Linked DNA regions of Homo sapiens. The protein of the gene in region 7 interacts with the protein of the main gene of each other region in a pairwise test. Each region holds a gene or a part of one and is shown on either strand. Other genes may lie near its edges.

Region 1 (3,500 bases), on a different chromosome or scaffold from region 7:
CGGGGTTTCACCGTGTTAGCCAGGATGGTCTCGATCTCCTGACCTCGTGATCCGCCCGCCTCGGCCTCCCAAAGTGCTGGGATTACAGGCGTGAGCCACCGCGCCCGGCCTGCACATTTCTTTCTAAGAAAAGAAGTAGTTCCTTTTTCACTCACTATTTAAATAATACTTTTACTTGAAGAGACAGATTAAGATATTATTTTTTCAAATGATATTTGCTAGGTTCAGGTTGAGTATTCCTTATCTGAAATGCTTGGGACCAGAAGTGTTTCAGATTTAGGTATTTTTCAGATTTTGTACTATTTGCATTATTCCTACTGGTTGCAAAATTAGCTGGGCATGGTGGTGCATGCCTGTAGTCCCAGCTACTCAGGAGGCTGAGGTGGGAGGATCACCCGAGCCCAGGAGGTCAAGGCTGCAATGAGCCATGATCATGCCACTGCGCTCCAGCCTGGGCTACATACAGAGTGAGAACCTGTCTCAAAAAAAAAAAAAAAAAAAAAAAGTGTTGGATTTGGAAGCCTTTTGGATTTCATATTAGGATTACTCAAACTGTAGCCACTTACCATAACAAAAAGTTGGCATTTTTTTAAAAAAGAAAAATGCAAAACTCATCAACAACTCTACCACAAGATAATTAACAAATAAGTGGACTCAACAGCCTGCCCATAGAGAAGTAATGAATGAATTTCATTCTTTTGTTCAGTCAAAGCAGCTGTTCCATTAATTTACATTCAGTCTATTATTCCATATAGTAATGTTCTTATGAAGGCAATCATTTACTATTAAAAATATGTCTTCTCCAGTACAACTTTCTTCCAGTAGCTCACAAAAGAAGTGGTCCTTATTCTTGGATGTAACTATTAAAAGGTAATCTAGGCCTGGCACAGTTGGCACGGTGGCTCATGCCTGTAATCCCAGCACTTTGGAAGGTCTTTTGGCAGGTGGATTGCTTGAGCCAGGAGTTCAAGGCCAGCCTGGGAAACATAGTGAGACCTCATCTCTCCTAAAAATAAAAAATAAAAAAAATAGGTATGGTGGTGCATGCCTGTGGTCCTGGCTACTTGAGAGGCTGAGGTAGGATGATCACTTGAGACTGGGAGGTCAATGCTGCAGTGAACCATGATGGTGCCACTGCACTCCAGCCTGGGTGACAGAACAAAACTGTCTCAAAAAAAAAAAAAGAAAGAAAGAAAGAAAAGAAAAAAAAGAGTATCTAGCGATACTGAGACATGCTAGAAGCTTCTGTACTTTTATAACCGTATACCAAACTTCCCACACTGCAAAATTTGTTCTAATATTGTTTGTTCACATATTCAGCAATGTTTTCTATACATCTTCCAACAGTATTTTGATTTCCTGACAAAATTATTTTCCATGTAGTACATCAGTCCATTTTTTGTTTAAGTGGGCCTTTTGGGGGTGGGGCAGGAAGAATCTGCCAAGGGTATGTGTTTTTTTGTCTTTTTTCTTTTTTTCCCCTGAAACAGTCTCGCTCTGTCTCCCAGGCTGGAGTACAGCGGCGCAACCTCAGCTCACTGCAATCTCCGCCTCCCAGGTTCAAGCGATTCTCCTGCCTCAGCCTCCCGAGTAGCTGGGACTACAGGTGTGCCCACCATACCTGGCTAATTTCTGTGTTTTTAGTAGAGACAGGGTTTTGCCATGTTGGCCAGGCTGGTTTCAAACTCCTGACCTCAAGTGATCCGTCCACTTCGGCCTCCCAAAGTGCTGGGATTACATGCATGAGCCACTGCACCCGGCCCCATTTTGTCTTTTATAAGAACAATAAACTTAAAAACTGGCCAGGCATGGTGGTTCACATGTGTAGTCCCAGAGCTTTGGAAGGCCAAGGTGGGAAGATCGCTTGAGCCCAGGAGTTCAATGCTGCAGTGAGCTATCATTGTGCCACTGTACTCCAGCCTGGGCAACAGAGTGAGACCCTGTCTCTTAAAAGCAAAAAACCCTCAAAATATAAATTTTAATAATTGAAGTTAGCAAAATTTTGTAAAGCATCTGATGGAATATCCTTTATCTTTAAACATCACTGCAAAAAAAATGTAGAGGTTCTTTTTATGTTCCAAATTTTTGGTTTTCAAATGTCTTCATACTGGTGACAGCCTCATATTTTATTATTTAATATCTCAAGGTTTTACATACTTTTTTTTTTTTGGAGACAGAGTCTTGCTCTGTCACCCAGGCTTGAGTGCAGTGGCGAGATCTCGGCTCACTGCAAACTCCGCCTCCTGGGCTCAGAGGATTCTCCTGCCTCAGCCTCCCGAGTAGCTGAAATTACCCAGAGGCACACGCCACCACGCCCGGCGAATTCTTGTATTTTTAGTAGAGATGGGGTTTCACTGTGTTGGCCAGGATGGTCTCGATCTCTTGACCTTGTGATCCACCCACCCTGACCTCCCAAAGTGCTGGGATTACAGGTGTGACCCACTATGCCCGGTCCTCCTCTTTTTTTTTTTGAGACACAGAGTCTCCCTCTGTCCCCCAGGCTGGAGTACAGTGGTGCAATCATGGCTCAATGCAGCCTTGAACTCCTGGGTTCAAGCAATCCTCTGCCTCAGCCTCCCAAGTAAGTGGGACTACAGGCACGTGACACCACACGGCTAATTTTTTATTTTTGGTAGAGATGGGGTCTCGCTATGTTGCCCAGGTTTGTCTTGAGCTCCTGGCCTCCTGCACCTCAGGCTCCCAAAACAGTGGGATTATGGGTGTGAGCCACCGTGCAGCTGGGTTCTACATACGATTAAAAGGAATCTTAAAGCAAGATTCCTATTAATGACAGAGCACGAAAGTTCATGTTTCTTATAAATTTCCTGATACTTTCCAATTTAGTAAGAGCTGACTTATTTGAATAGCTCACCAAGAATTCATCACAGGAGTTGGACAAGTGTCAGCTCTGACAACTTGTTTGCTTGTGCTTGTATTATTAGTATTTTCTTTGATCACTGGTTTCTCTGCATGTCCATTTTGTAAAGGCTAGTTCAATGAGAACTGGTTAATATAAACTGTTAACAACATGTTGCAATACATGGAGAACAAATGTATAAATATGTCTCTGCTCACTGCAGAATTCAGTCTCTTCCTTCAGGACACCCAAAGTTCTACAGTTAACACATTAACTGTTTGACCTATAGACCCAAGAAGATGCCAGAGACAATTCCTAAATTAAATGTTTTATCTTATCTTTTAGATAAAAACAATAAAAAGTTCTAAATTTTCTTCCAGTTCCCCTGGATCATCTTATCTACCTCAATTTGAAAACTACTGCTCTGGACTACAGCCACAGTGAACTTTTTAACAATTGCAAATCAGATCAGTTCACTCTCCTGCTTAAAAATCCTTCAAAGATTTAGCTCTGCCTTCAGGATAGAGTCCAAAATCCTTGCATGCCATACAGGACCCTCAACTCTGCTCCTTGCCATTCTCTAGTCTCAACACTGTCCTTAGTCTCTAGTTCTCAAGCCTGGCTACACATTAGAATCACCTGG
Region 2 (4,202 bases), on a different chromosome or scaffold from region 7:
ATGGGGTGTGGGCAAGGGTCTGTCTACACCAGGCTGTGATTACCTGCTCACATACATGTGTCTATCTGAGTAGGGGTATGTTATCTATTTTTCTACACCACAGGGTGAGGAACAGGTATATGTGTGCATGTGTATGCATCCGTGTGTGTGTGTATGTGTGTGTGCATGAGTGTGTGTGTGTGTGTCCAAAGCCACCTCTTCAACCTGTGCCATTTGTATCTGTGTCTGGCCCAATGAGAGTGTTGAAAGGTGAGCCACAAGATAAAACAGCAACTTCCTACCTCCCTTATCAAGACAGCTGTCTGACCTACCTCCCCTTGGCCACTCTTGGGATTACTGGGGTTGGCTTCAGTATTTTCAGATTTTTCAGAAGGGGAGGAGAATGCTTGAGTCTCATCCAGGAACTTAGGCAGTTCTCAGCACTGCCTGCTCCTCCTCCCTCAAATAACCAAGTCTGAAGACCAGGAGAGAAAGCCGCTGGTGGACTGGTCACCTGTCTGGCAGTGGGAGGAGGAGAGTGAGAGGTTTCTAGGTTAGGAATCCAGACTTAGACCCTCCCCTCCACCCCCAGATGGGTGGTGCACAGGCTCATCTCGCGGCCCCTCCCCACTCCACCCTAACATGGATACGCCCCCAACAACCAAGGAAAGATCTCCCATCGGCTGACTCCACAGATACACACATGTCCCCACAGACACACACACGCCCATGCAGAGGCACAGACATCCAGGCACATCTTTCCCTTTCTCTGTCTTTCCCTTGGTTTGAATTTCGTTTAGCCACATATGTTGTGTGTGCGTGAGGGTGGGTGGGGGAGGGGCAGACAGGGATGAGGGATGGCATGGTGCCAACATCTACCTATGGGGCTCGGGCCAGGGACGCCCCTTACAGCCATCCTGGGAGGGGGTCTCAGCTGTCCCTTTGTGGCCAAGGGGACCCTCCTGGGGAGTGGGGGCAAGCACAGAGGTCCTTTCTCCCCAACCCGGGGTCTGGTCCCTGACCCACCTTGGGGGCCTGCAGGGGAGGAAATGGACAGAGCGGGACCCTGAGGGAGCATAGAATTGGCCACCACGAGCCCCCAGTGTCCAGCCTTGCCACCCCATTGTTCCCGTGAGGGGGTCTCTATATACAGGGGGCAACTCCTCCCACCTTCCTCTCAATCCCTGCTTTCCCTGCGTTGGGCGGGGAGGGGAGGGCGGCAGAAATATTTATTTATTTCCTTTATTTATTTAATTTTTTTTTTTTTTTTTGGAGTAGAGAGTGACAGATGGCGGCGGGTCCCGGGGGAGCCGGCTCTCCCCCAGTGCAGACGCATGCCAATCACCGTCTCTCATGTGATAGCTGCTGCCCGTGACGTGCCAAGCCCATATGGCCTGGCATAGAGGCTGGTACCCCGCCTGGTAGAGATGCCACACTCGCTCCGCGGTTCGCATGGCGCTCTGAAGACGCCGGCGCCCGCCGCCTTGAGGAGCCGCTGCCCCCGCTCCCTGAAGATGGGGGAACAATGAAATAAGCGAGAAGATCCCTCTTCTCCCCCCTCTCTCTCTTGCCCCCTCCCCCCCTCCCCTCCCCTCTCCCCTTGACTCCTCTCCGAGGTAAGTTGTCCGAAAGGGAGCGAGATCTGACCCGCCGGTTGGGAGGAGGGGCGGCAGCTTCGGCCGACAGGAGGGTCCTCAAATACCTCCTTCCTGGGATGATGCCCCCCTCATTGGGTGGGCATCGGAGGGGCCCCAGGTTCTCTCTCCCTTAGGGGCTGCAGCCCAGGGGGCTGCAGAGGAGGTGTCTCTGCCTGCGATGGGCTCGGTGGGGGGGGAAGGCAGGATCACGGAGGGGGATATGCGAAGAGGCCGAGACGGAGGACCCCTCCATGGTTGTCCCAAAAAGCCTGCCACCTTTCCCCACCACCGAAAAAAGGGAAGCAAACAAACAAATTTGGATTTTTCCCCCATCAATCCCAAAATACAACGAGATCTGAAGAGCCTTGTGGGAGGGAGTCAGCTTGAAGGGGGAAGGGGGTCCCTGACCGCAGAGGGGACGGACTGGGCTCGCTTCTCTCAGTCTCCTCCCCACGCCCCGCTGCTTCAGTCCTCGCCGCCCAGAGCCGGCTCCGGGAGCTGGGGACGCATCGGCTAGAGGAGACGATCCTCCCGCCTCTGGAATTGGGGGTGCGGGGGTGGGGGCCGAGCAAGGGGCGGCGCGCAGCCAAGTTGCAAATTGGATTAGGGAGCGTGGGGGTGAGAGCCACGGGAGGGGTGAGGGAGCTGGGCCGGGGGGCCCGGGCCGCGAGAGCGCGGAGCGGGGCAGCTGTCCCCACCGGCGGCCGACCAGCCTCTCTCCACCGCCAGGAGAGAACGGGCTTTCAGGGCGAGCGCGCCGCCTCCCCTGGCAAAGATATCTGGTCCCTAAAACCCCCACCCGGTCCCTGCCCTGACCCTGAGAAGAAGCAGGCGCGGGGAGCAGCCCCCCATTCAAGCGAGGGGCGGAGCCGGGGCCCAGCGCCGGGGAGAGGGCCTGGGCCGAGATCCCAGGCCGGCAGCCGGGTAGGGCTGGGCCGGCTCTGGGCGGGGCAGGCGGCGGAGGTGGGCATCCAGGGTAGCCTAGGCAGGAGCCCGCACGAGACTCGGGGGTGGAGGAGGGTTGTGGGGGGGCGTCGGTACCCCAGCGCGCCCCTCACTTTGTGCTGTCTGTCTCCCCTTCCCGCCCGCGGGGCGCCCTCAGGCACCATGCTGACCCGCCTGTTCAGCGAGCCCGGCCTTCTCTCGGACGTGCCCAAGTTCGCCAGCTGGGGCGACGGCGAAGACGACGAGCCGAGGAGCGACAAGGGCGACGCGCCGCCACCGCCACCGCCTGCGCCCGGGCCAGGGGCTCCGGGGCCAGCCCGGGCGGCCAAGCCAGTCCCTCTCCGTGGAGAAGAGGGGACGGAGGCCACGTTGGCCGAGGTCAAGGAGGAAGGCGAGCTGGGGGGAGAGGAGGAGGAGGAAGAGGAGGAGGAAGAAGGACTGGACGAGGCGGAGGGCGAGCGGCCCAAGAAGCGCGGGCCCAAGAAGCGCAAGATGACCAAGGCGCGCTTGGAGCGCTCCAAGCTTCGGCGGCAGAAGGCGAACGCGCGGGAGCGCAACCGCATGCACGACCTGAACGCAGCCCTGGACAACCTGCGCAAGGTGGTGCCCTGCTACTCCAAGACGCAGAAGCTGTCCAAGATCGAGACGCTGCGCCTAGCCAAGAACTATATCTGGGCGCTCTCGGAGATCCTGCGCTCCGGCAAGCGGCCAGACCTAGTGTCCTACGTGCAGACTCTGTGCAAGGGTCTGTCGCAGCCCACCACCAATCTGGTGGCCGGCTGTCTGCAGCTCAACTCTCGCAACTTCCTCACGGAGCAAGGCGCCGACGGTGCCGGCCGCTTCCACGGCTCGGGCGGCCCGTTCGCCATGCACCCCTACCCGTACCCGTGCTCGCGCCTGGCGGGCGCACAGTGCCAGGCGGCCGGCGGCCTGGGCGGCGGCGCGGCGCACGCCCTGCGGACCCACGGCTACTGCGCCGCCTACGAGACGCTGTATGCGGCGGCAGGCGGTGGCGGCGCGAGCCCGGACTACAACAGCTCCGAGTACGAGGGCCCGCTCAGCCCCCCGCTCTGTCTCAATGGCAACTTCTCACTCAAGCAGGACTCCTCGCCCGACCACGAGAAAAGCTACCACTACTCTATGCACTACTCGGCGCTGCCCGGTTCGCGGCCCACGGGCCACGGGCTAGTCTTCGGCTCGTCGGCTGTGCGCGGGGGCGTCCACTCGGAGAATCTCTTGTCTTACGATATGCACCTTCACCACGACCGGGGCCCCATGTACGAGGAGCTCAATGCGTTTTTTCATAACTGAGACTTCGCGCCGGCTCCCTTCTTTTTCTTTTGCCTTTGCCCGCCCCCCTGTCCCCAGCCCCCAGAGCGCAGGGACACCCCCATCCTACCCCGGCGCCGGGCGCGGGGAGCGGGCCACCGGTCCTGCCGCTCTCCTGGGGCAGCGCAGTCCTGTTACCTGTGGGTGGCCTGTCCCAGGGGCCTCGCTTCCCCCAGGGGACTCGCCTTCTCTCTCCCCAAGGGGTTCCCTCCTCCTCTCTCCCAAGGAGTGCTTCTCCAGGGACCTCTCTCCGGGGGCTCCCTGGAGGCACCCCTCCCCCATTCCCAATATCTTCGCTGAGGTTTCCTCCTC
Region 3 (3,500 bases), on a different chromosome or scaffold from region 7:
TAAGGGGGTCGTTATGGAAAGGGGTATGATACGAGGAAAGAATTCCATATTTAAACGGTTGAGAGTGGGCATGCAGTGAGGTACTCTGAGAAATATTTAATCAGTGCCCTTTCCTCAGAGTACATGAGACAGTCGGAGCTGGCCAGCTGGCCTTCTGACACTCCATGACACAGAGGGAACCCCATCCAACTCCGCTTTTCATCCATCTATTTTTGAATCCTTTTAACACTTTATGAGAGAGAAAGAACAGAACAGGCAGGCAGGCTGTGTTTAACCCCACAACACCACCATAGAGCCTAAAAGCTTGGGAGTAAATACAATTTCTTTGGCACCTTGTAATAAAACATGAACAATGAGTTTCTCACCATGTTATTAGTCTCTGGATTCCACGCTCCGGCATACTTACACATTTACAGAAAAGAGAGACAGACAAAGAGAGTACTGTGCTGAAAGGTTCAGACAGAAGAATTCGGGACTCAAGCCACAACAACATTAATGAGGAAAGGGAGGGTAGGGCAGCCCAGTGAACAATGAGCTGCTCGCATCAGTTTTGAAAGAGACAGTAGAGAAGACACACAAACATTCCTAATTTCTTGCCTTGGCTGGATAACTCGGCTGCAAAAGGTAAGATTCTTTGCTCTTCCGGTTTTCGGGATCAGAGGTAACCCGGGGGCCTAGCACAGGTGGTCTCACATCTGGGAACGAAGCCTGAGTCCCCAGGGAAGGACTCTCGCCACGGTTAACGGCATCTTTACGGATGTCAAAGAATAGCTTGGGAGGGTCAGGAGGAGGAGCAGGGGGTGGTTTTCCTGTGCCGGCTGTGCGGGAGACAAGGCCGGGAGCCGGTGCTCGGGTGCCCGCAGCCTCCAAGGGAGTGCCTTCGGCAGGGTCACGTGCAACACGAGAGGAGTTTTCTGACGCCGCCAGGCAAATGTTATTGGATAAACAAGGTACATATAAGCTGCTGACCTTTTTAATCCCAACTGCCTCATGACATGGGTTAGAGCTCACATTCTTATGATAAACTGTCCTGGTGGCTGCATAGCGCTGCTGGGGTTGGGATGAAGCACTGGGGAACGTGGAGTCCGGAAGCAAGGAACCAGGGCACACCACACCTTTGGGAGCCGATCCAGCTGCCAGGAGGACAGAGATAGGCTGGGGTTGTGAGGGGTTCTGCTGTCTGGGGGTGCCGAGTGGGACATAAGGCTTTGGTGAGCTCAGGTAGAGGGAATCCTTATAGGTATTGTGGATGGTGGGGGACTGCCATGCAAAGCGGTCCTTTTGAGGGAGAGGAGGGCGTGGGGGAGAGAGAACCTTTAGCAATATTTTCAAGATATGTTATCAAACAGGGAAAAAAGAAAGAGGAGGGGAAATGGAAAGAAGGACGATCATTAGAAACGACAGCATAACATGATTCAAGCAAAAACAATTCTTAACACGTTTTTCAGCACATCCTCAGGTTAGACTCCTCCTAGTATCCACAATTCTAAGTGAAGCCAAAGACTGAATCCCACTCACCTGGAGAGGTAGGCCTGACTCTCCTTTGTATCCAGAGAGGCTGAGCCCAGCCCGTAGCAGGCCACATGCTACATCAATTGTGACACCAATCCTTGGCTGACTGCATCTTTATTAGACATCCTGACTCAAGAAGGGAGCCAAGTGAACTAAACACCAGTGGGAGAAGCACCAAAGCCCCCAACTCCCTCTCAAACCTCCTTCCCTCAAGATTTATCTTCGAGCCTTTGGCCTTAGAAGTTTATGTTCACTGGAACTCTTTTGAGTGCCTTTCATTCTTTTCCTTTAGGAAAAGGAGAACTGGAAGAACCGTCCTTATTTGTGTTCACAGGAGACAGATGTCTTAATTGAGTCACTGAGATTTAGCACTCAATTCCATAAGCATAACAAATTAACGTGCCCTAAGAAGAGAATGCTAAGGATTTTTGAATACACATGTGCTCTTTTCTCAGAGGAAAGAATTTGATGAAGCTAATTATTAGAAGGAAGACAAGCATGAGATTAAAAGCACACAGTCTCCCATTTTTGATGTACACAAAAAAGGGGACCAGGCAATGAAGGACTGAATTGGCCTCTACCGGATTGGACTGTGCCTAGTTTCTCAAAATCTAGCCCCATGCCCATCTCACCCAGCCCACCACCACACAAAGGGAATCAGCCCCAGAGGTAAATGATCAGCCTCAGATTCACAGCTTAAGCCCAAAGCTCTGGTTGCAGGTCCAGAGGCTCACACAGCATCCCTCTCTTCTCAACACTGCTCCTCTTTGGGTCTCAGTGGAGAAGAGGGTCAGGAAATGGGATGACCCTCCAGTCTGATCCTCATGTCAACAAGAGTCATCTGGCAATCTGCGGCTCAACTGGGAATTAGACTATGAGATGAGGAAACTGCATTTTGCTAGATTTTCTTTTCTTTTGTTTTGTTTTATTTTGTTTCGAGATGGAATCTCGCTCTGTCACCCAGGCGGGACTGCAGTGGCGCGATCTCGGCTCATTGCAACCTCCGCCTCCTGGGTTCAAGTGATTCTCCTGCCTCAGCCTCCCAAGTAGCTGAGACTATAGGCACATGCCACCATGCCTGGCTAATTTTTTGTATTTTTAGTACAGACGGGGTTTCACCGTGTTAGCCAGGATGGTCTCAATCTCCTGACCTCATAATCTGCCCACCTCAGCCTCCCAAAGTGCTGGGATTACAGGAGTGAGCCACTGCACCCAGCCTAGGTTTTCTTTAATGGCTCCTTTTTTTTTTTTTTTTTGAGACATAGTCCCACTCTGTCACCCAGGCTGGAGTGCAGTGGCACAATCTAGGCTCACTACAACCTCCGCCTCCCAGGTTCAAGCAATTCTCCTGCCTCAGCCTCCTGAGTAGCTGGGACAAGCCCATGTCACCACACCCAGCTAATTTTTTGTATTTTTAGTAGAGACGGGGTTTCACCATGCTGGCCAGGATGGTCTTGAGCTCCTGACCTTGTGATCCACCTGCCTCGGCCTCTCAAAGTGCTGGGATTACAGGCGTGAATGGCTCCTATTTTTAAAGATATCCCAGTTCTAGAAGAAAACCAGAACTTTCCTCCAAATTACGCAAGTGAAGTATATTAGAGTCTGATCAATATCGGTAAGTGAATTTTGACCAAAAATGGGGAGGGTGCAAGATCTGGGTCTATTTTGAATTTATTTTTAATTTTATTTCATTCTTTTTTTTTTTTTTTCCCGAGATGCAGTCTCACCCTGTTGCGCAGGCTAGAGTGCAGTGGTGTGACCTTGGCTCACTGCAACCTCCGTCTCCCAGGTTCAAGCAATTCTCCTGCCTCAGCCTCCTGAGTAGCCGAGACTATAGGCCTGTGCCACCACACCCGGCTAATTTTTGTATTTTTAGTAGAGACGAGTTTTCACCATGTTGGCCAGGCTGGTCTTGAACTCCTGACCTCAAGTGATCTGCCCGCCTTGGCCTCCCAAAGTGCTGGGATTACAGGCGTCAGCCACAGCGC
Region 4 (3,500 bases), on a different chromosome or scaffold from region 7:
ACACGGCTATACATAACAATATATGGCCATTTTTACTCGTCAAAGGGTTTTGAATTAATGGGGAAAAAAGGGTTCCCTTTCAAGTCAATCAATTTTATTCTAATTATAGTAGGCATTTCATAATACAAAATTATAAAAACAGCTTTGATAAGCCTAATTCCTTTGAATTAGGCTATAAAAATTTGGGAGGAAAACACAGATTAGAAAATAATGATGTATTACAAACAAGCTTCATATAAACCTTTGCCTGTTATTTTTAAACAAAGAAATATAATTTCCTTCTTAAATTATTTTAGCCTTTTCTTCAATTTATTCATCTTAAATTTCTTTATGATGAAGACTGATACTTAAATTCCTTGTAATTCAACCAAAATTCCAATTCAAGACTATAATATGTGACAGGTATTAAGATAAAGTTTAGAAATTTTACTTTTAAAAGGATATCATTTGCAAAAAGGATACTGCATATCTTTAAATAAGGAGTACATTCAGGTTCCTAATTCCTCTTTATACTCACCCCAATTACTGAAAAAGAAAAAGTACAGGAAAGGTTAAGCAACAAACTGCATTCAATTCATTCGGAACATAGATATTTCTGACAACAAAAAGGATAAACATACTTAAATAAACTTACATTTACATAAAATGTAAATTTTCAAAATGCATGTTTTTAAATGATTTAAAGGTACATATGAATGTGCTGTAATTATAATAACTCTAAGACCCTTTGGCTGCCTGTTTTTGCAGGTTTTTTGTGGCAAAATATATATAACATAAAATTTAACATTCTAACCATTTTTTCAGTGTACTGTTCAGAGACATGAAGTGCATTCACGTTGTGCAACCTCTATCCATCTCTAGAACTTTTTCGTCACCCCAAATTGAAACTCTAATCTATTGTTTTAATAATGCCAATTCTCATTCTTGTTACTTTTGTCATCAAAGGGGATCTTAAACATATAACATTCAACATTAAATAGTACTAGTAGGTGTTGTCACAAAGATACAAATTCAGAATTTTAGGGAGAATTCATTCAGAGTCAATTCCTTAACGTTACAGATAAAGAAATTAAGTGTCATAGAAGTAACATGACTTGCCCAAAGTCTCACAAGTGATAGGAACAGACTGGATCTAAAGCCCATCCTATGCTGTCTTTTTAAGTTTCTTTGATAGTACACTGATCTTCATATCATGGCCATGACTCAAACACACTTCACAATACTGAAGTATACAACCTGAATATTTAATATTGAAAGAAAAAGATAAACCACTAAACATAAAATGATTGTTTATGATTGAAATATCTTGGTTAAAAAATTAACCGAAGTAACTATATCTGAAAATAAGTATATAGATTGAATAGCTGTATGAGCTTTCATAAAGTTTAAGATTGAGAATTCTGTACACTGAGTTTAGGCCTGACATGACAGATGAAATGAAAACATACATATAAAACCTTGTCAAAAAACTTACATTGTAGTGTGTAACAAACAAAATACGAATTAGATGGAGAAATGTAAAATTTTTCATGTTAGTCATTCTCCCTTAAAAGTAAATACATCAATAAGATATTTAAAGAAAGTCCTGTCCTGAGGGAAAAGATCTTAAAATGTCTAAGACATAAGTGAGCCACAAAAATAATCTGTTGAGAAATTGCATAACTCTACAGAGGATATAAAAAAAAATTTTTTTTTCTTTTTTTGAGACAGAGTCTCACCCTGTCGTCCAGACTGGAGTGCAGTGGCGCCATCTTGGCTCACTGCAACCTCCATCTCCCAGGTTCAAGTGATTCTCCTGCCTCAGCCTCCTGAGTAGCTGGGATTACAGGCACGCACCATAGCGCCTGGCTAATTTTTGTATTTTTAGTAGAGACAGGGTTTCACCATGTTGGCCAGGCTGGTCTTGAACTCCTGGCCTCAGGTGATCTGCCCACCTGGGCCTCCCAAAGTGCTGGGATTACAAGTGGGAGCCACCACACGTGGCCAAAAAAAATTTTTAAAGAAGGTTGAAGATCATATAAAGTTACCGTTGGCCAGGCGCGGTGGCTCCCGCCTGTAATCCCAGCACTTTGGGAGGCCAAGGTGGGCAGATCACAAGGTCAGGAGATCGAGACCATCGTGGCTAACACAGTGAAACCCCGTCTCTACTAAAAAAATACAAGAAAATTAGCCAGGCGTGGTGGCAGGTGCCTGTAGTCCCAGCTACTCGGGACCTGAGGCAGAAGAATGGCGTGAACCCAGGTGGCAGAGCTTGCAGTGAGTAGAGATTGTGCCACTAAACTCCAGCCTGGGCGAGAGAGCAAGATTCCGCCTCAAAAAAAAAAAAAAAAAAGGTTACGGTTAACAATTAAATCTTAATTTAAGATAGTGTAAGAATTCAAAATTAAAGTTCCTCTTAACTATCAAAATAATATAATAGTTCCTCTTAACTATTCATTCAAAGTAATTCTTTGCTTTTGAAAAGAACTAAGCTCAATGTCCAAATCTCCCTTATTACTATTATAAAAATTAAAAAGCAGAACATTTTCTAAATTACTCATATATATAAAACTCATCCATTTCATTATCTTAATATTACTTTCTGTATATTAATTTTCACTTAGACCATAGAAGCTACCAATTTTTGGAGCTAAGGCTTGTTTAGCATCCATTATCTCTGTTCCTCTCAACAACTCTATGAGAGTTTTGTATTACAGATAAGGAAACAAAAACTCAGTTATCATCATTAATATATGGCCAAGCAGCTACTTTTATTTCTTTAAAACAGGTTTACACAAAGCAGAATAAACAATGAACAGCACTGATAGTCACGATTAGTATGCAGAGATATGAAGTTTGTGATATTCTTCCACTTAATCATGAAAGACATCATAAATAAATTTGAGCAATATCTAGAATCCTGGTCCACAAATTTTACTAAATGTAGGGTTTCTAACAGAAAATCAAACAACTCAGTTCAGAGTTTGTGTCAAAATTCAGAACTTAGTTCTGGATCCACTTTGATATTATCTAGCAGAGGTGAGTTACTTCACTTTTGTGTGCCTGTTTCTTCACCTATTATGGAGGGGAAAATATCGTTCAACTTATCACAAGTTTGTTGTGAAAGAGAAATGTAATTCATAAAAGAGCTTTAAAAAAATAACCTTTTAAAAAATAAAAATACGGAGAACCTTTAGAACAAACACACTAGAACTTTATCATGTCTCTATCAGACAGGGTTTTTCTTATCTGTAAAATGCAGACACTGGATTAGATGATCTCCAAGTTCTCTTTCAACTCTAAAATTCAGTAAATCTAACCACTTAAGACTCAAATAAAGTCCTTTAAGTATTATTAACCCTTTCAAAAACCAAAAACCTCAACTTTTTTATGGGTACACTACCAGGGGATATGAGCAGAACCAATAGCAGAGGCCAAAAAAGGCTTGACTAGTCATAGCTCAGTAATCTCTCCGAATAAATAAAATGAGAGTCAACTGTCTCCCTCAAAGAAAAAAACCT
Region 5 (2,831 bases), on a different chromosome or scaffold from region 7:
GCTACTGTCCCTGGCCAATTTTTGTATTTTTAGTAGAGATGGGGTTTAATCATCTTGGCCAGGCTGGTCTTGAACTCCTGACCTTGTGATCCACCCGCCTCGGACTCCCAAAGTGCTGGGATTATAGGCGTGAGCCACTGCGCTCGGCCTAGAGTTAATTTTTCTAGTGGGGTGTTTGCTGGCAAAGTAACAAGTTTCCAACAAGGGGAAGGCCAATGCACCTCATCAAAATGGGAGAGTGGGAAGGAAGGCCTGTGACAGAACTTTACCTGTGCATCCTACCACCCGCCCTGTGTCCTAATCCCAGCTAGTACTGGAGACAGCAGGTAAGGGTTGAGTCAAATATGAAATAGGAATTTTTAAGTGGAGAAGTGGACTCAGGACTAAGTCTTATTATCTGAAAGTGACTGAAAATTACCTGACAAATGTCAGAGGGGCCTATGACCCAAACGTAATTACTGGAAAAATAAAACATTTGAAAGAACTGATTGGAGACGAGATAACCAGTAATTTCGGGTTTATTAAACTTATTAGAAAGGGGCCATCTGCAGAGCCACCACTTACTGTCCACTCATTACTGAAAACTCTGTTTCCATAGTGACCTAATTATACTTTATTTAATGCAACTTTAATGAATGAGAGAACTTTTTTTTTTTTTTTTTTTTTTTTTGAGATGGAGTCTCGCTCTGTTGCCCAGGCTGGAATGCAGTGGTGCGATCTCGGCTCACTGCAACCTCCTCTTCCTGGGTTCAGGCAATTCTCCTGCTTCAGCCTCCCAAGTAGCTGGGACTACAGGCGCATGCCACCACGCCGGGCTAATTTTTGTATTTTTAGTAGAGACTGGGTTTCACCGTGTTAGCCAGGATGGTCTCAATCTCCTGACCTCGTGATCCGCCCGCCTCAGCCTCCCAAAGTGCTGGGGTTACAGGCGTGAGCCACCGTGCCCGGCTGAGAACATTTTACATATATGCGAAATAGCTACCCAGTCCTGATCGACTAGAGCACTGAGTGACACACATTAAATGTTAAGTTTGAAAAGACTGTAAAACATTCACATATGACAGCTCTTAGTGAAGTAAGAGCCTCTCATATTCCATAATTGTTTGAAACATCCAGGAGAGCTAGGTCCCGTATCTCCTCTAGAAGTGTGTATAGGCTCCTTCCCTTTGTTTGGCGATATTCTTGATATTCCTCCTGAATGATGTTTACTTTGACTTCTTGGGCAAGCTGAGCTTCTTCCACAGATTTAGTTACTTCTTTCACTAACTCACTCTTCAGCAAGGGGGAACTCTGATGAATAAGTTCTGTATTTGGTATCTTGTATGGTTTGTTACTAATTATTTCAAGTCTGATTGTATCAGAATGGCAACGTGAGGCCTGTATGGATATTCTTACCTAGCATAGAGAAGAAAATACATATTACTAAATCACATTATTTATTCCTTACATTTAAAATATTAATAATACTTAATAGAAACACAGACTTACGGTTACATGGTCAAACAAATGGAACGTAACAGATTCCCCATCTGTTGTAGTAGAGGTAATTTTGTTTTGAAATCGTTGAAGGGATCCTGGTTTCCATTCAGAACAGCTATCTGGGCCACATGAGATGACTAAACCATCTTTATTTTTTAGATAAGCAGCACCTTTAATCCCAAACCTATATTATGACCAGAATATAAATCCAGAGACAATGTATTCTTAGTACACAGATCTTGTATGCTTATCTAGAATACTAGTTTTTCTCCTAGATTAAAAACAAATCACTTTTCCTGTGGTTTACCTCCACGTATTTATTTCACCTTAGCAGATGGAAACAAAGTATTTTGCTGGATAAGAAAGACCCTAAAATGGATATAGAAGTGTGTGTGTATATATATACACACACACACACACACACACACACACACTCCAGTCTTCACTTTTTTTTTTTTTTTTTGAGACAGAGTCTTGCTCTGTCGCCCAGGCTGGAGTGCAGTGGCACGATCTTGGCTCACTGCAACCTCTGCTTCCCGGGTTCAAGTGATTCTCCTGCCTCAGCCTCCCAGGTAGCTGGGATTTCAGGCATGCGTCACCATGCCCGGCTAATTTTTGTACTTTTAGTAGAGACGGGGTTTCACCATGTTGGCCAGGCTGGTCTCGAACTCCTGACCTCAGGTGATCCGCCCACCTTGGCCTCCCAAAGTGCTGGGATTATAGGCGTGAGCCACCCCTGGCCTCCAATCTTCACATTTATATACTGAATTATACATTACATTATGTACATATGATAACTAGTTGCTTAAATATTTTAATAAATTATATCTAATGTACAGTTTGTGTTCTACACTTTTAACTATGATTTCTTATGCACCATTGCATTAGATGTAACATACCTTGGTATAAATAGAAGCACACCATTTGTTCTAATTGAATAAATAACTCCGTCAGATATGCAACGCTCCTCGGTGGCAGGGTCTTTGTCTTTGAAGTACATGCACTGGAAGAGCTCAGTAGACTGCTTCTGAGAATGCTGTGCTGCCTGTAAGAAGCACAACTCCAAAGCATTTTAACACTCCCCTGGCATTCCCCAAAGAAACGAAATTCATATTCATTCAAATGTGAGATTCTGTAAAACTATTAATATAAAAATTGTTCTCTACTATGAAATTAAATTACTTTTTGTGGGAACTTAACCATCTAGTATTATCTCCTCAAAAATGTCTTAGAAAATGAATTATTTTATAAAATGAAACCCATTTATAGTTCATGAAATTAGAGATCAGCAAATTTGGGTCATGTTCACCTTGGGTACAGGAAAAGTATTACACATGTCTTACTTGCATTTC
Region 6 (3,500 bases), on a different chromosome or scaffold from region 7:
TGACAAACCTGACAAAAATAAGCAATGGGGAAAGGATTCCTTATTTAATAAATGGTGCTGGGAAAACTGGCTAGCCATATGCAGAAAACTGAAACTGGATCCCTTCCTTACACTTCATACAAAAATTAACTCAAGATGGATTAAAGACTTAAACATAAGACCTAAAACCATAAAAACCCTAGAAGAAAACTTAGGCAATACCATTCAGGACATAGGCATGGGCAAAGGCTTCATGACTAAAACACCAAAAGCAATGGCAACAAAAGCCAAAATTGATTAATGGGATCTAATTAAACTAAAGAGCTTCTGCACAGCAAAAGAAACTATCATCAGAGTAAACAGGCAACCTACAGAATGGGAGAAAATTTTTGCAATCTGTCAATCTAACTAAGGGCTTATACCCAGAATCTACAAGGAACAGATACAAATTTACAAGAAAAAAACAACCCCATCAAAAAGTGGGTGAAGGATATGAACAGACACTTCTCAAAAAGAAGACATTTATGCAGCCAAAAAACATATGAAAAAAAGCTCATAATCACTCGTCATTAGAGAAATGCAAATCAAAACCACAATGAGATACCATCTCTCACCAGTTAGAATGGCGATCATTAAAAAGTCAGGAAACAACAGATACTGGAGAGGATGTGAAGAAATAGGAACGCTTTCATATTGTTGGTGGGAGTAAATTAGTTCAATCATTGTGGAAGACAGTGTGGCAATTCCTCAAGGATCTAGAACTACAAATACCATTTGATACAGCAATCCCATTACTGGGTATATACCCAAAGGGTTACAAATCATTCTACTATAAAGATGCATTCACACATATGTTTATTACAGCACTGTTCACAATAGTAAAGACTTGGAACCAACCAAAATGCCCATCAGTGATAGACTGGATAAAGAAAATATGACACATATACACCATGGAATACTATGCAGCCATAAAAAAGGATAAGTTCATGTCCTTTGCAGAGACATGGATGAAGCTGGAAACCATCATTCTCAGCAAACTAACACAGGAACAGAAAACCAAACACTGCATGTTCTCACTCATAAGTGGGAGTTGAACAGTGAAAACACATGGACACAGGGAGGGGAACATCATATACCAGGGCCTGTCAGGGGCTGGGGGACTAGGAGAGGGATAGCATTAGGAGAAATACCTAATGTAGATGATGGGTTGATGGGTGCAGCAAACCACTATGGCATGTGTATACCTATGTAACAAACCTGCACATTCTGCACATGTATCTCAGAACTTAAAGTATAATTAAAAAAAAAAAAAAACGGCAGTGATCCTGAGCTCTGGGGAGACTGCAATGAGCAGAGCCCTCCTGCCAACTTGTATTGGACTTGTAGCAGGATTGCAAAATTGACTTCTGTTTCTTTAAGCCACTGAGATTTAGCATTATTTCTTACTGTAGTATCAGCTAATAGCTACCTTTTTCTCTATTCAATAGCACTTGTGCCCTCCACCTACAAATTTCAACTCTGATTCTACAGCAGTGATTCTGGGGCCTAGCTGCACATCCAAATAGATCTTGGAGCTTTAAAAACATCCTGATGCCCAGACTTCACGCCAGACCAATCACATCAGAATTTACTTGATTGGAAGCTGGCATTTGGTATGTTTTTTAAAACCCCAGGCAATTTTGTTGTGCTGCTGCCAGGGCTGAGGACCACTGTCATAATAATGGGGACCTGAGAAAGCTCTGTCAGTTGCCAGAAGTCGTTAAGCTTCCTATTATGAGGACTTGCCATAGGACACAAATAAGCCCAAAGATTACAGTACATTTTCTGCTTGTAACAGCTATTCCTACTTGTACGGACTTTGAAGTGATTCAGTTTCCTCTACGGATGAGAGACTGGCTCAAGAATATCCTCATGCAGCTTTATGAAGCCAACTCTGAACACGCTGGTTATCTAAATGAGAAGCAGAGAAATAAAGTAAGTTATCCACAGGTTAGCTTCTTCAATGTCTGTCTACAGGGCATGAGGAAGAAAGACGTGGTGGGGGGGCTACCTACCTCTGCATACTGGCAAAAGCCCACTATGCTTCCCCATGCCCGGTTAGCCCATGTGGCTTAACAGAATAATAGATGTCACCATTCACGCCACAAGGTTTCAGACACCACCAAACCGCCCCATTCTTCCCAATGGTCAGTGGCCTGAATTAGGGCTCTTCAATTCCTACCTAGAGCAAGCTCTGGTTGAGCAAAGTTAATATAAATTTAGCATTGATCTAGTCAGTCCAAACATCTTATTTAAATCTAAGCATTTGTTTTGTTCTCATAGGCCAGACATAGATGTATGATATAAAGTAAATCCATTACTCAAAATATCAGTAATATATTAAGATTAAAAAGCACAGAACATTGATTCCAAAAGCTTCCAGAGAAAATTCATTCACCAGATAGTTATTGAGTGTATCCTGGGTGCCAGAAATTGACCTAAATACTGGAGATACAGCAACGAAAAGAAAATCTCTGCCTTCATGAGTTTACATTCTGGGTGAAGAGACAGACTCTAAACAAATAAGTATATATGTGTGTGTGTATGTAATGTTTGTATATGCATATATTTGTACATACATATATATGCATATATGCAATTATATATAGTAAAATGAGCATTTATGTAAATATAACCAAATCAGCAAATATATGTATAAGTATGTCAGTTGGGATTAAACATGGTGTGAAGACAAATAAAACAAGAAGGAGGGTGTGCATTAACTGTGTCAGATGCTGTTTATAGGTTATGAGTTGAAGACTGAGAATTGGCCAGGGATTTAGCATGTCAAAGTCATAGCTGACCTTGATAGGAACTGTTCCTGGGGTGGGAGCATGTTTCAGGAGGGAAGCTCCAGTGGACAGAGTTCAACAGAGACTAGGAGGAATGGATGCAGCAAGTATAGACAATCCTTTCAAGGAGTTTTGCTATGAAGAGATAAAGAGAAATGGGGTGGCAGCTGGAGTGGAAAGTGAGTACAAGAGTCCCACCTAGCAGTGGGAGATGGTAGAGGATGTTTGCACGCTTCTGGAAATAACCCAGTCAAGAAGGAAATGTTAGTGGGGAGCAGAGAATGCGCACAACTGCCAGAGGGCGTTCTTCGATACATGTCCCACCCAGAGGAGAGGGATTGGACTTAGGTTAGGAGCACAGGAAGGTCGCAGGGAGCAAAGTTGTGGTTCTGGGAGCAGGTGGAGGTCCTGTTTGCTTCCAATTACTCAGTGAAATAAGAGGCAACATCACAAGCTGAGAGTTTCACAGGCACTGCTCAAGAATAATTTCTAGCCCCCGTCTTGAATACCTTGTCACAGAGAGCCTTGAGGGTATTAGCTATGAAACAGGGAAATTTCAATGGGGCTGGCCAAGCAATAACACACCAGGGTGAAAGCAAGACTGAGTGGGCACTGGATGGATGACCTAGAAGACTAAGAGTGGACTCTGTCATCGGGGGAAGGAGCAGCACTTTTCACTAACTAATCACC
Region 7 (3,500 bases):
ATAAAGAAGCAGTCGTAGTGAGGGAAAAGTGTATTTCACAGTCATTACAAAAGTACATATATCTAATAATGGTGACATAAATATAGTCCTTACTTATGACCAAATCATACAATTAAAATGGACATTTCCTCCTAGACTTCACACAATGACAGTCCAGTCAATTTCTGTCAGTAACTACAGGGTGACTGGAATCACAGGCACAGACTGAGGAAGACAGTCACGGTCGAACAGACAACATGCTTCGGACTTACCAAAGGGAGAGTCGAGCTTTCCATATAAATATAATAAAATAATAAAGAATCTAACATTTCTCCTTTCACTCGGTTTCATAGATTTGTCAGGTGCTCACACACACACACACACACAAATACAGCTGATCCCCTTTCATCACTCCCCCTCACCTCTCACTGGGTTTAGAATAAACCTGAGTTCAGAGTCCAGGTCGCCAATGGCAACGCGGTCAGTTAGCGGCACATGTGCAGCTGTTCTTGAAGCCTGCCAGGAATAAGAAGCACGTTCTCCACAAGCTAACGGCAAGGCGGAAGTACCCCTGCTCTCAAGGAAAATGCATCAGGGGTTCCAGCAAGTTCCCAATGCGCAGGTATACACCCTGCAAGCCTGCAAAGTGGAGCCGTTGCAGCTGGAAACCGTCTTTAGAAAAGGTACACTTCATGTCGAATGGAGAGATGGTCTTAGATGATTATTTTCTTCTCTCTGCTTATAAAGCTCTATTTTCTTTTTTTGGAGACAGGGTCTCACTTTGCCACCTAAGCTGGAGTGCAGTAGCATGATCTTGGCTCACTGCAGCCTCGACCTCCTAGGTTCAAGTGATCCTCCCACCTCAGTCCCCGAAGTAGCTGGGACTACAGGCACGTACCACCACACCCAGCTATTTTTTTTTGTATTTTTCGGTAGAGACGGGCTTTCACCATGTTGCCCAGGCTGCTCTCGAACTCCTGAGCTCAAGCGATCCACCTGCCTCGGCCTCCCAAAGTGCTGGGATTACAGGTGTGAGCCACCACACCTGGCCTAAAAGCTCTGTTTTCAATGGTAAGTTCTGGAACCCAGTCTGAAGCTATACAAAAAATAACACCAATGGCCAAGGGGTCTGACCTCATCCTAGAATGCCCTAGAGCCGTGGTGATCCCCTAGGGAAGAAACAGGCAGCTCCAGGTCTCACCAAGGTCAGCCAAATATCCATTCTGTCCCGCTCTGTCAGAGATGTGAGGGACTGAAGGATGTCACCACTGGTGAATGAGAGAATGATTCAGAACTGCCTCTCTGCCTTCTGGCAAGGCTGCCTGCCAGGGAAATAAAGGCTGGCTTTGCAATTCTAGATTTGTGTTTTGGGATCCTTGGACTGAGATGACTATCTGAGGTGGCCACAGAGGTGGTCTCTGGTCACACCTGCACCGGTCAAAAGTTGAAGACTCCAGGCCATTCTGTAACTGGTCTCCTACACTAACCCCTATCCAACCTGTGCTGATGGGTCTTCTTTTTCTGATTCTTCTCACCAATGACTGCACCCTGTCAAGTGCCAGCTGGATACAGTCAGACAACACGGCTGTCCACAAAACACACACAGGGGCACAGACACAATACTGGAGACACATCTTTGGTTCGATCCTTGGAGAAAGGTGTGAAAACACAACGTGGACTGAACCCTGTTTGAGGAGCTTGGCTTTCCTCGAAGAAGAAACTGGCCTGTATCTGAACAGGTTCTCTGCCAGGCAAGCCTGCTCCCAGCTCCCAGCAAACTCGCCGAGCTCTGAGCCGCACCAGTTCTGTGGGCAGCTTGAAATCAGCATCGCACAGAGATAATGCTGCCTTCTCGCCATCTGAGTTATGCTCTGAATTGTCACAATCATCTTTTCCCTCTTTCTACAGAACCAGCTGTAACCGTGTTCTATGCCTTCCAGAAGGATCAGGGCTATGCCTTAAACAACAGGATGAACACAGGGCCACCGAGACTTGCCCTGCCTGTGGGCCACAGCACTCAGCAAATCACCACAGTCAGCTTTTTTGCTCTCCACACTGAACCCTCCTGTGAAAACATGAGTTTGGTGGAATTGCTTCTCATCTCTCCATCCAAGTTTTAAAAAATTATGTTATTTCAATTTACCGACATCACATTTAAAAAAAATCTTTGGAAAAGATAATTCAATCATTAGCATGTTTCAACAACAACAACAACAAAAATCTATCAAAATCTTGCTTGGGAAATGAGTGTCTCCTTCAGTCTTTCTCTTCTGTTGGGGTCCCCACTGTTTGGTTTGATCTTGGTCCGAAGCTCCTCTCCATCTTCCTCTGAGGATCCTGGGCCTGCCCCCGGCTCCTGCTGGCCTTCAGGTAATCCCTGCTATGAAAGGCAGGGCTGCTACACTCCGCAGAGGAAACGTGGCCTGGATGAATGACTGTGATATTGTTCTCTCCCTGTAACTGTGGCCAACTGCTGTGAGAGGCACACATGTAGCACAGCGTGAAGAAAGATCTGGTAACAGTCCATAATCTGAGTGCCCCAGAAGGCTCATGCCCTGTTTTCCCCCCAAGCCTGGGGGAAGTGGGAAGTGGAAGGGGTTGGTGAGTACTTGGGAGGAAGGAAGATCTGAATGATAGGAATTGGCTGCCCCTGGAGCCAACCCTCCTAGCGATTCCAGCATCTCTGGGGGTCCCTAAGCGAGGTTGGGTTGTGCAGGCTTTGGGTCTGTGGATTCAGCTACAGGTGGGACTAAGGATGCTCCACGCGAGGCCTTGGAGTGCTCACACCCTGACAGATGTGTGGAGCTCTGTTCAGTTGCTGTTTTCTAGAGATACCCCAAACCCCGCTGGCCCAAGTTAGCACTGGGTCTTGACCCCATCGGCCATGTCAAAGGCAAGGTTCACAGGGGCTAGGGGCTGCAGTGGGGGCAGGCTGGCCTCCAGGGGCCTATCTGCAGATGGCTGCAGACTCTGATGGCGCTTCCTTAACATCTGTCCGATGCCCATCATAGGGAACCGGCCTCGGCTTTTCACACAATTGGGGCTCCCCAGAGGCTGCATGGGGCCATTGCTGGGAACCGGAGGTGGGCAACACAGGCCCTCCTCTTTTGGGGGGCTGTTCTTATCTTCGTGAGCAAAAGAGACCAGAGTTGGATGCAAAGGAGTATGGAGAGGCGACATGCTTCCGGATGGCAGACCCGGGGACAGCGTCCTCTCGCTGGAATTTCTGCGAGCCAAGCTGACCGGGGAGTTCAGAATCCTGTAGTGATGAGAGGGAGACAGCACTTCTACGTGGTCGTCGCGATCCACAGACTCGAAGGAGCGCACCATGTCCAGCATCAGGGGGTCTTCCTTGTGGGGGATGCCAGTGCTTCCGGGCCCTGGCTGATGGGGCTCCGGTTTCTTCACAATCCTCGGGGTCCTGGGCGGTGGCACGGGGATGAACTCCATGGAAGAAGAAGCCACACAATTGGAATCTGAGGTTTTGCGGAAAATATTGCGGCAGCCAAAGGAATCTGCAC

The links.
Region 1: the proteins of HUNK (region 7) and PTPRA interact in a two-hybrid assay, tested with the Homo sapiens proteins (one large-scale study listed by BioGRID and IntAct).
Region 2: the proteins of HUNK (region 7) and NEUROD2 interact in a two-hybrid assay, tested with the Homo sapiens proteins (one large-scale study listed by BioGRID and IntAct).
Region 3: the proteins of HUNK (region 7) and SORBS1 interact in a two-hybrid assay, tested with the Homo sapiens proteins (one large-scale study listed by BioGRID and IntAct).
Region 4: the proteins of HUNK (region 7) and SNRNP48 interact in a two-hybrid assay, tested with the Homo sapiens proteins (one large-scale study listed by BioGRID and IntAct).
Region 5: the proteins of HUNK (region 7) and DIS3L interact in a two-hybrid assay, tested with the Homo sapiens proteins (one large-scale study listed by BioGRID and IntAct).
Region 6: the proteins of HUNK (region 7) and SPARCL1 interact in a two-hybrid assay, tested with the Homo sapiens proteins (one large-scale study listed by BioGRID and IntAct).

Annotation. Positions count from the first base shown.
Region 1 is NC_000020.11:2,879,981-2,883,480, reverse strand, and holds part of PTPRA (receptor-type tyrosine-protein phosphatase alpha isoform 1 precursor), read right to left. Parts: intron 1-3,500. UniProt on the Homo sapiens protein: Tyrosine protein phosphatase which is involved in integrin-mediated focal adhesion formation.
Region 2 is NC_000017.11:39,605,121-39,609,322, reverse strand, and holds the start of NEUROD2 (neurogenic differentiation factor 2), read left to right. Parts: upstream 1-1,402; 5' UTR 1,403-1,595; intron 1,596-2,718; 5' UTR 2,719-2,723; coding exon 2,724-3,872; 3' UTR 3,873-4,202. UniProt on the Homo sapiens protein: Transcriptional regulator implicated in neuronal determination. Mediates calcium-dependent transcription activation by binding to E box-containing promoter.
Region 3 is NC_000010.11:95,414,872-95,418,371, forward strand, and holds part of SORBS1 (sorbin and SH3 domain-containing protein 1), read right to left. Parts: intron 1,315-3,500; coding exon of another isoform or gene 598-1,314; intron 1-597. UniProt on the Homo sapiens protein: Plays a role in tyrosine phosphorylation of CBL by linking CBL to the insulin receptor. Required for insulin-stimulated glucose transport. Involved in formation of actin stress fibers and focal adhesions.
Region 4 is NC_000006.12:7,596,698-7,600,197, reverse strand, and holds part of SNRNP48 (U11/U12 small nuclear ribonucleoprotein 48 kDa protein), read right to left. Parts: intron 526-3,500; coding exon of another isoform or gene 497-525; exon of another isoform or gene 339-496; intron 1-338. UniProt on the Homo sapiens protein: Likely involved in U12-type 5' splice site recognition.
Region 5 is NC_000015.10:66,331,568-66,334,398, reverse strand, and holds the end of DIS3L (DIS3-like exonuclease 1), read right to left. Parts: exon of another isoform or gene 2,531-2,831; intron 2,525-2,530; coding exon 2,379-2,524; intron 1,664-2,378; coding exon 1,489-1,663; intron 1,396-1,488; coding exon 1,087-1,395; 3' UTR 501-1,086; downstream 1-500. UniProt on the Homo sapiens protein: Catalytic component of the RNA exosome complex which has 3'->5' exoribonuclease activity and participates in a multitude of cellular RNA processing and degradation events.
Region 6 is NC_000004.12:87,480,877-87,484,376, reverse strand, and holds part of SPARCL1 (SPARC-like protein 1 isoform 1 precursor), read left to right. Parts: intron 1-1,816; coding exon 1,817-1,953; intron 1,954-3,500.
Region 7 is NC_000021.9:31,998,520-32,002,019, reverse strand, and holds part of HUNK (hormonally up-regulated neu tumor-associated kinase), read right to left. Parts: intron 3,495-3,500; coding exon 2,836-3,494; 3' UTR 1-2,835.